Regions from separate parts of the Homo sapiens genome. Here region 2 is linked to region 1. A link means that fine-mapping ties the variant in region 1 to the expression of a gene that starts in the linked region. Tissue or cell type: pancreas. Region 1 holds a variant in brackets; the other region holds the start of a gene. All regions are shown on one strand. Distances are between the middles of the regions.

Region 1 (4,705 bases):
TGCAAAGCACTGCAATCATAATCATCAAGCAAAGATACATTTCATTCGGCATTTTAAAAAATTCAAATATCAACCATTAATAAATAAGATTAGAAAGAGAGGGCCGGGCGCGGTGGCTCACGCCTGTAATCCCAGCACTTTGGGAGGCCAAGGCGGGCGGATCACGAGGTCAGGAGATCGAGACCATGGTGAAACCCCATCTCTACTAAAAATATAAAAAATTTGCTGGGCGCAGTGGCGGGCGCCTGTAGTCCCAGCTACTTGGGAGGCTGAGGCAGGAGAATGGCATGAACCTGGAAGGTGGAGCTTGCAGTGAGCCGAGATCACGCCACTGCACTCCAGCCTGGGCGACAGAGTAAGACTCCATCTCAAAAAAAAAAAAAAAAAAAAAAAAAAAAAAGAAAGAGAATTTGGGGTTGGGAGACAGTAAGAATTGCAAGTAAAAAAGCAGAATGAACCGTGTTTAGAAAAAACGTAATTTTTTCCACAAGAATCAACGAAAAATACTGCAATAACATCCTTTCTGTGATTGTGAATTTCCAGGTTCATTTTTCTTATTAATCTAAAGAAAAAGTATACATATGCATTATTATTATTGTACATCAGACAATAAAGAAAAGCAAAAAGAATATAAGGAATTCTTATAATCCCAACCACCCACACATTAACATCTCGGCATACCTCCTTCGAGATCTTTTTCTTTTTTTTTTGAGACGGAGTTTCACTCTGTCACCCAGGCTGGAGTGCAGTGGCACGATCTGGGCTCACTGCAACCTCCACCCTCCAGATTCAAATGATTCTCCTTCCTCATTCTCCTGAGTAGCTGGGACTACAGGCGCCTGCCACTGCGCCCGGCTAATTTTTTGTATTTTTAGTAGAGATGGGTTTCACCATCTTGGCCAGGCTGGTCTTGAACTCCTGACCTCATGATCCACCCACCTCGGCCTCCCAAAGTGCTGGGATTACAGGCGTGAGCCACTGCACCCGGCCGAGATCTTTTTCTATTAAATTGCTCATTTTTATTCTTTTTTTTTTTTTGAGATGGAGTCTCATTCTGTCGCCTAGTCTAGAGTGCAGTGGTGCAATCTTGACTCACTGCAACTTCTGCCTCCCAGGTTCAAGTGATTCTTCTGCCTCAGCCTCCCCAGTAGCTGGGATTACAGGCCCATGCCACCACACCCACCTAATTTTTTTTGAATTTTTTGGTAGAGATGGGGTTTCACCATGTTGGCCAGGCTGGTCTCGAACTCCTGACCTCAGGTGATCTGCACCCCTTGGCCTCCCAAAGTGCTGGGATTACAGGCCTGAGCCACTGCACCTGGCCTCATTTTTATTCTTATTTAACTCAATAAGCATTCATTGGATATCTACAAAGTTAGGCCAGGCCTTCTGAGGAACGCAGTATGTACAAAGTTCCTGCCCTCAAAGAGCTTAGAAACTACTTGAGGACATAATAAAAATCATGATGATCACTGCTTACACTTACATAACACTTATTATGCACCAATAATTGTTCTGTTTTACATGTATTCACTTATTTAATTTTCACATACATCCACAAAGTAGTTGTAAAAATATTATTCCTTTTTATAGATAACTTGGCTGGGCACAGGGGGACAAATGGGTTGGACCACTATATACACATACAAAGTTCTGTTCAAATCTATCCCATAATTTTATCCAAAAAGTTATAGAATCATTTTGTTTCTGAATTTAGATAAAATGATATTCATGATATAAACTATTAAGAAGTTTAAGTTCCAAAGAAAACTTAAACTTGATACTTGGCACATCATTAAAAACACAATTACTCTACTTTGTTAGGGTCTTTGTTACGGACTTTGAAGAATATAAAGAAGCTAGTTCCACGTTGAAGAGGAGTGGTAAGAGTGGGCATCCTTGTCTTGTTCCAGTTCTCAGAGGGAATGCTTTCAACTTTTCCCCATTCAGTATTATGTTGGCTGAGGGTCTGTCA[T/C]AGACGGCTTTTATTAAATTAAGGTATGTCCTTTGTATGCCGATTTTGCCAAGGGTTTTAATCATAAAGCGATGCTGAATTTTGTCAAATGCTCTTTCTGCATCTATTGAGATGATCATGCCATTATTTATTTATTTATTTATTTGGAGTCTCACTCTGTCGCCCAGGCTGGAGTGCAGTGGCACGATCTCGGCTCACTGCAAGCTCCGCCTCGCGGGTTCACGCCATTCTCCCGCCTCAGCGTCCCAAGTAGCTGAGACTACAGGCACCAGCCACCACGCCCAGCTAATTTTGTTTTTGTATTTTTAGTAGAGACGGGGTTTCACCGTGTTAGCCAGGATGGTCTCGGCTAGTCTCAATCTCCTGACTTCGTGATCCGCCCGCCCTGACCTCCCAAATTGCTGGGATTACAGGGGTGAGCCACTGCGCCTGGCCGATCATGTGATTTTTGTTTTTAATTCTGTTTACATAGTGTATCACATTTATTGACTTTTGTATGTTAAACCATCCCCACATCCCTGGTATGAAACCCACTTGATCATGGTGGATTATCTTTTTGATACGTCATTAGATTCAGTTAGCTAGTATTTTGTTAGGGATTTTAGCATCTATGTTCATCAAGGATATTGGTCTTTAGTTTTCTTTTTTGGTTGTGTCCTTTCCTGGTTTTGGTATTAGGGTAATGCTGGCTTCATATGGAAAAAAAAAAAAAAAGTTGAGTTGACACAATCCTCTACTTTGAGTCAAGGATGCCTCCTAGGGACATTAAGGAATGAAGATGACTTTCCTTCACACTAAATGGCCTCAGCCTGCTGTGGTCTTGGTTTCTTTGCCTTTTTTTTTTTTTTTTTTTAATGGCTTTTCTGCTGCTGTCCTCATTTTAAAACCTGTTAGAAGGCTACGAAAAAAATCCTCTCTCCTTGTAGTATAAGGTCTCTAGGCTGCAATGGTTTGAAACCAGATAACCAGGATGGCTAGGACTTTTGCAAAGTGGAAATATTATCTGATAGATGGTCCAATGACCTCTACTTTAGAAAAAAAGTGTATATGGTAAAATATATAAATTTGAAATAACTACTGGTCTACTTAGGGGAAGCAGAGCGGAGCACTGGAGAACACAGACTTTGGACCCAGAAGGCATGTATCCAAATTGTGTTTCTGCTTATTAGCTGTGGGATTGCGAGCCAGTTACTAACTCTTTATCTCTCGGTTTCCTCATCAGTAAAAATAATAACAATGGTAATATAGTTTGGATGTTTGTTCCCTCCAAATCTCATGTTGAAATTTGATCACCAATGTTGGAAGTGAGGCCTAGTAGAAGGTGTTTGGGTTATGGGGCTGGATCCCTCATGAATGGCTTGGTGCCCTCCCCAGGGTAATGAGTGAGTTCTTGCTCTATTAGTTCTCATGAGAGCTAGCTGTTTAAAAGAGACTGGCATTTCCTCCCCTCTCTCTCTTGCTCCCTCTCTCGCCATGTGACATGCCTGCTCCCCCTTCACCTTCCACCATGACTGTAAGCTTCCTGAGGCCCTCACTAGAAGTAGATGCCAGCACTAATGCTTCTTGTACTGTCTGCAGAACCATAAGCCAAAATAAACCTCTTTTCTTTATAAATTAGTCTCAGGTATGCTTTTATAACATCATAAAATGGACTAATACAAATAGTATTAGTATAGCATCAACCTAATAAAGTTATGAAGATTAAATAAGTTAATATTTACATAGTGCTTTGAATAGTGCTGGGAACAGACTAAGGGCTATATAGGTGCTTGATAAATTGATGCGACCAACAAAAAAGATATTCCCACTGACTGTGTTCCAAGAGTTGTGGGAACTCTTGTGGGAAGCAGGAATTCCTGATAAGTAAGGTATTATGGACTGAATGTTTGTGTCCCCCCAAAATTCCTATGTTGAAATCCTCACCCGCAAGGTGATGGTATTGGGAGGTGGGGCCTTTGGGAGGTGACTATGGCATAAGGGCAGAGCCTTCATGAATGGGATTAGTCCCTATGATAAGAAGAGATACAAGAGAGCTTGCTTCTCCTCTTCCTTGTTGTCAGATGAGGATATGGCAAGAAGACTGCCATCTATAAAGCAGGAAAAGAGCCTTCACCAAGAACCCAACCATACTGGCAGCCTGTTCTCAGACTTCCAGACTTCAGAACTGTGAGAAATGAGTATTTGTTGTTTAAGCCACCCAGTCCATTGTAGTTTTGTTATAGCAGCCTGAACTGACTAAGACATAGGAGGATTATACATTCTAACTTAAAATGTCCCCAACGCATTAGTCCTAGCTGCTTGGGAGGCTGAGGTTGGGGGGATCACTTGAGCTCAGGAGCTTGAGGCCAGCCTGGGCAACATAGCCAGACACTGTCTCTAAAAAATAAAAGTCCCCAAAATACATATGCCCTTGATTTGCCAATTCCACTCCTGGGACTCATTTCCATAGGAAAAAAGTTATCAGTACATGAGAACACATGATGTACAAGGATGTTTATCACAATATTGTTCATAGTGGTAAAGAACTGGGAAAAAAGTGAATATGCAGAGGGGCTATTACACAGACACCGGCTGGGCGCGGCGGCTCACGCCTGTAATCCCAGCACTTTGGGAGGCCGAGGTGGGTGGATCACTTGAGGTCAGGAGGTCAAGACCAGCCTGGCCAACATGGTGAAACCCTGTCTCTATCAAAAATACAAAAAAATTAGCCAGGCATGGTGGCGCACACCT
Region 2 (4,344 bases), 70 kb after region 1:
AACAACAACAAACAGAGCTTGCAACAACAACAACAAACAGAGCTTGTGAGATAGAAGGGTAAGTAAAAGAATTGTGGTAAATTGGAGCAAAATGACCCTTCAAGTTATTTCAACCCAGGAGGTCTCCTGTCCCATCACAACACTCCCTGTCAGTTTCACTCAAAGGTCTAGAAACTAAATTGTGCGGACTAAAAGGCCTGTGTTTAAGACAAGAATCTAATATGCTTTTCCTCCACTTAAAACCTTCAGATATTCCTTCAGCAGGAAAGTATGGGAAACAACCACATAGAAACAATTTTAAACGTTTAACAATTAAAATTAAAAACAAAAAAAAAAACCTTCAGATAGCTCTCTGGTCTATAGAAGTAAAAATTTCCTAAAATGATATTTACAATGTGACCCCAGTTTAGGGGTTCAGTCTTCTATTCAGCCACAAACATCACTTTAAACGTATACTGCATGTGACCACTGAGCTACACGTACTTTTTTTTCATATCCTAGCACCTCTGAATATGCTTCTTTTACAAAGACCTACATTTGCCCCCTTGAGCACCTGGTCAACAACTACTTACTCCTCAAAGAGCCTCAGGTAGGCTGGAGACACACAGATGCAGGTTGGCAATTTGGTTCTTGTATTTATTAGCTTCCGAACTTTCAGCAAGTTCCTTAACCTCTTTTAGTCTCAGTGTTATATATGAAAAAAGGATAACAGTACCCATCTCATAGGATTTTTCTTGTTCTGAAGATTAAATAAGCTAATAATATATATTCAACGCCTTTAGAACAATGGCAGTCACATAGTAGGTACTCAATGTTTGGAGTACGAATAATGTACTCTTATTATTCAAAGACCAGCTAGAAAGTTACCTTCTTTGAGGGGTCTTCCTGATAGTTACAGTGACAAGGAGACTTAATCGCCCCCAAACACTTACCACTTTACACTGCTTGGTTGTCTCCATTACACAACTAATTCCCCGAGGGGAAGGATCTTGAATAACTGATCTTTGTTGTAGGCGGCTAGCACAGTACCCAGATCATAGAGGGAACTCAGAATCTGATGCTGGCACTTGTAATCAGAAAGTCTGGGCTGAGATCCCAGTATCTTCACTGACTGGCTTTGTGATCTCAGGCTGGTCACTTAGCATTTCGAACGCCGCGCTACCTACCCCGCCCACCCCAGGAGCGAACAGTGTTGCTGCCCCAAAGCGCCGAATAGATCGCAGAACGTAGTGGGAAAGTAAGGGACTATTATGATCTGTACCCCACCCCGACGCACGCCAAGCGGCTTTTTCCCCATTTGTGGCCAAATTTCCCGGCATGGGGAAGGAGCCTTAGGGGAAGCACCCGGGACCTCCTTGGCTTCTTCTGGGAGTCTAGTTTCACCTATTTCGTTTCGCCAACAGGCGAGACGGGCAAGACTTCGGGCTCAGCTGCCACCATCAGTACTGACCTGTCCATGGCTAAAGCCTTTTCCACACACAACCAAAGTTGGCTGCAGTTTAGCTACCGCGTTTTAGCCTTCCCGCTCTCCGGAAGCAAGCCCTTCGACCCGGAAGCAGTCTGTCCCTAAAACAGACCCACAGAAAAGGGGTAGGGGAGAAGAAACAACGTTCCCATCTAGCGCATGCGCGACTTCAGCCTACAGGTGCACGCCCGGTGGGCGCAGGCGCAAAAGTTTGCCAATGTGTTCCTGGTTGCGTTTAGCCCAGACGCCCTGCGGCCGCTTTGCCTGACCAAAGTCTGTGGGCGTGGAACAGGCCCTGGGTTCTCCTACTGGGAAGAATGAAGTATGTTGATAGTCTGGAAAAATGTGAAGTCATTTCCTGGTATTCTCTGTCAGAAAGCGCCTGTTCTTGGAATTCAGATGCGTGGGCTCTGCCCCACACCTCGGGGATCTCTATCTCTCTGCCTACACTCAGTCCTTTGTTCTGTAGCCCCCTGCAGTTTTTGCAACTATTTTCCATAACTGCTATTTGTTCTTTACTTGGTGTTCTTTCCTATTAAGGAGAAAAAGTTCACCTGTATTAAAAAGTAGAAAGGCAAGCGTGAAATATGATGGTATTGCCCTCTATTTCAAAGTGCCGTCTAGGCAAAAAGTGGTGTATTTTGGTCTTGAAGGAGTCAGTCACATTTTTGTTTTGGTTTTTGTTTTTTCCAGTTTGAAAGTAGTGACTGGCTATTAACTGACCAGATTACAAAAATAATGTTAGATGCTTCAGTTTATCCGTTTAATAAGCCTGTTGATATAGTCTTTTCTGTTGCTGGCATTTATACCTTTTATTAATACAAAATAGGTAGTCCTTCATTCTCCCTCGTGGAGAAGATAATTTGAAGGATCACAGGAACTTGAGTTTTTCAACAGCATAGATCTCATGAATCAGATTCTCCAGTCAGATGATGCCATATTTATCAGGAAATCTAGCAATCAAAGCGTTATCTGTTAAGGTAATTTGTTTATTGATTTTGCCATAACCAATTTGTAGATCAGTTCATTTACTGATTTCAGGTTCAGGTACTCCATGTGATATATGGTTCCACAATCCTCAGCGTGTTAACTGAAGCCTTGTTGAGTTTAACAAAGCTGCCATTGAAGATCTGGGGAAAGTGAAGAAGTTGCAACAGAGTTTTGGGCTCACACCATTGATACATTTGATCCTTAAGGCAAGTGACAATTTGGGTTTCACAGGTATATAGAAATTGCCAGCTTTTCTTGCCATATATTTCTTGTGACAGTGCTGAGCTTTTTTTTTTTACTTCTTGCTTGCTTTTTTTTGGACTTGATTTTTTAAATTATGTTTCCTTCCTTCCTTCTTTCTTTGTTTTTTTTTTTTTTGAGACAGGATCTTGTCCTATTGTCCCGGCTTACGTGCAGTGGCACAGTCACGGCTCACTGCAGCCTTGACCTCCTGGGCTCCAGCAATCCTCCTACCTCAGCCTCCCTAGTACCTGAGGTTGCTGGGACCACAGGCACGCACCACCATGCCTGACCTCCTCTCCTCCCCCGTTTTTTAAAAATATTTTGGAGAAATGGGGTCTTATGTTGTTGCCCAGGCTGGTCTCAAACTCTTGGGCTCAAGCCATCCTCTTACCTGGGTCTCCCAAAGTGCTGGGATTACAGGGGTTAGCCACCACATCTGACAGTGCCTAGCTTTTTCATAGATGTAGCTTTCTCCTTGCTTTTCTTTTTCTTTTTTTTCGAGATGGAGTCTCATTCCATTGCCCAGGCTGGAGTGCAGTGGTGCCATCTCGGCTCACTGCAACCTCTGCCTCCTGGGTTCAAGCGATTCTCCTGCCTCAGCCTCCTGAGTAGCTGGGATTACAGGTGTCTGCCACCACACCCGGCTAATTTTTGCGTTTTTGGTAGAGATGGGGTTTCACCATGTTGTCCAGGCTGGTCTTGAACTCCTGACCTCAGGTGATTCACCTGCCTCAGCCTCCCAAAGTGCTGGGATTACAGGCGTGAGCCACTGCGCCTGGCCTTCTCCTTTCTTTTCAAAGCATTTTATGGGCAAACTTCTTTCTCAGGCACTTGACCTTTAGCTCTGTGAAATTCCTTCATGTGTTTTATTTTTATTTTTTGAGACAGAGTCTTGCCCTTTTGCCCAGGCTGGAGTGCAGTGATGCAATCTTGGCTCACTGAAACCTCTGCCTCCCCGGTTCAAGCGATTCTTGTACATCAGCCTCCCAAGTAGCTGGGATTACAGGCGTGCACCACCATGCCCAGCTAATTTTTGTATTTTTAGTAGAGGCGGGGTTTCACCATGCTGGCCAGGCTGGTCTCGAACTCCTGACCTCATGATCCACCCGCCTCGGCCTCCCAAAGTGCTGGGATTACAGGCATGAACCACAGTGCCCAGCCTTCCCTCACATTTTTAAAGGGTTTCTGGCACAGCAGGAATCTTCTTTTTCTTGTCTTCAATACCCTCCATGGTTTCAGCTGGGAAAGAGGAAATCAGTGGAAGTTTTGCCTTAGGCATTTATGTTCTGCTGTAATTCTGGGAAGCATAGTTCCCCGGAAGGCCTCTTCATACCTTATTATCCCCTCTCAGACAACATGGCATTTTGATAAAAACATTGCTTTGGGCTCCATCTAGGTTCAACCCCCCTGCACCTGCAGATTCCTCATCTGTAGAGTGGAGAAAACAATACCTTTGTCAGGGGGTGTTGTGAGGATTAAACAAGATGTCATAGGGAGTCCCTGTCTCTAACATAAGTTTTAAAAATTAGCCACGTGTGGTGACACGTGCCTGTGGTCCCAGCTACTTGGGAGGCTGAGGCAGGAGGATCACTTGATCCTGGCAGGCCGAGGCTGCAATGAGCTATGATCATGCCACTGCACTCCAG

What was found. PIP is the estimated chance that this variant, and not a neighbour inherited with it, causes the effect.
Region 2: NUP107 starts here. The variant in region 1 is fine-mapped to the expression of NUP107 in pancreas (GTEx, PIP above 0.99).

What each region holds. Positions count from the first base shown.
Region 1 is chr12:68,754,425-68,759,129 of GRCh38, reverse strand. The region is part of intron 3 of SLC35E3 (solute carrier family 35 member E3); the gene reads right to left. Among named protein-coding and RNA genes, the nearest start is that of SLC35E3, 11 kb to the right of the region's middle. The variant T/C (reference allele first, on the strand shown) is at 1,976.
Region 2 is chr12:68,684,180-68,688,523 of GRCh38, reverse strand. NUP107 (nucleoporin 107) reads right to left here and starts at 1,546. Exons shown (of 28, transcript NM_020401.4): 1 at 1,451-1,546. The coding sequence starts at 1,458. LOC100507250 (a long non-coding RNA gene) reads left to right here and starts at 1,665. Exons shown (of 3, transcript NR_038930.1): 1 at 1,665-1,787; 2 at 2,507-2,661. It also overlaps the pseudogene RPL7P42.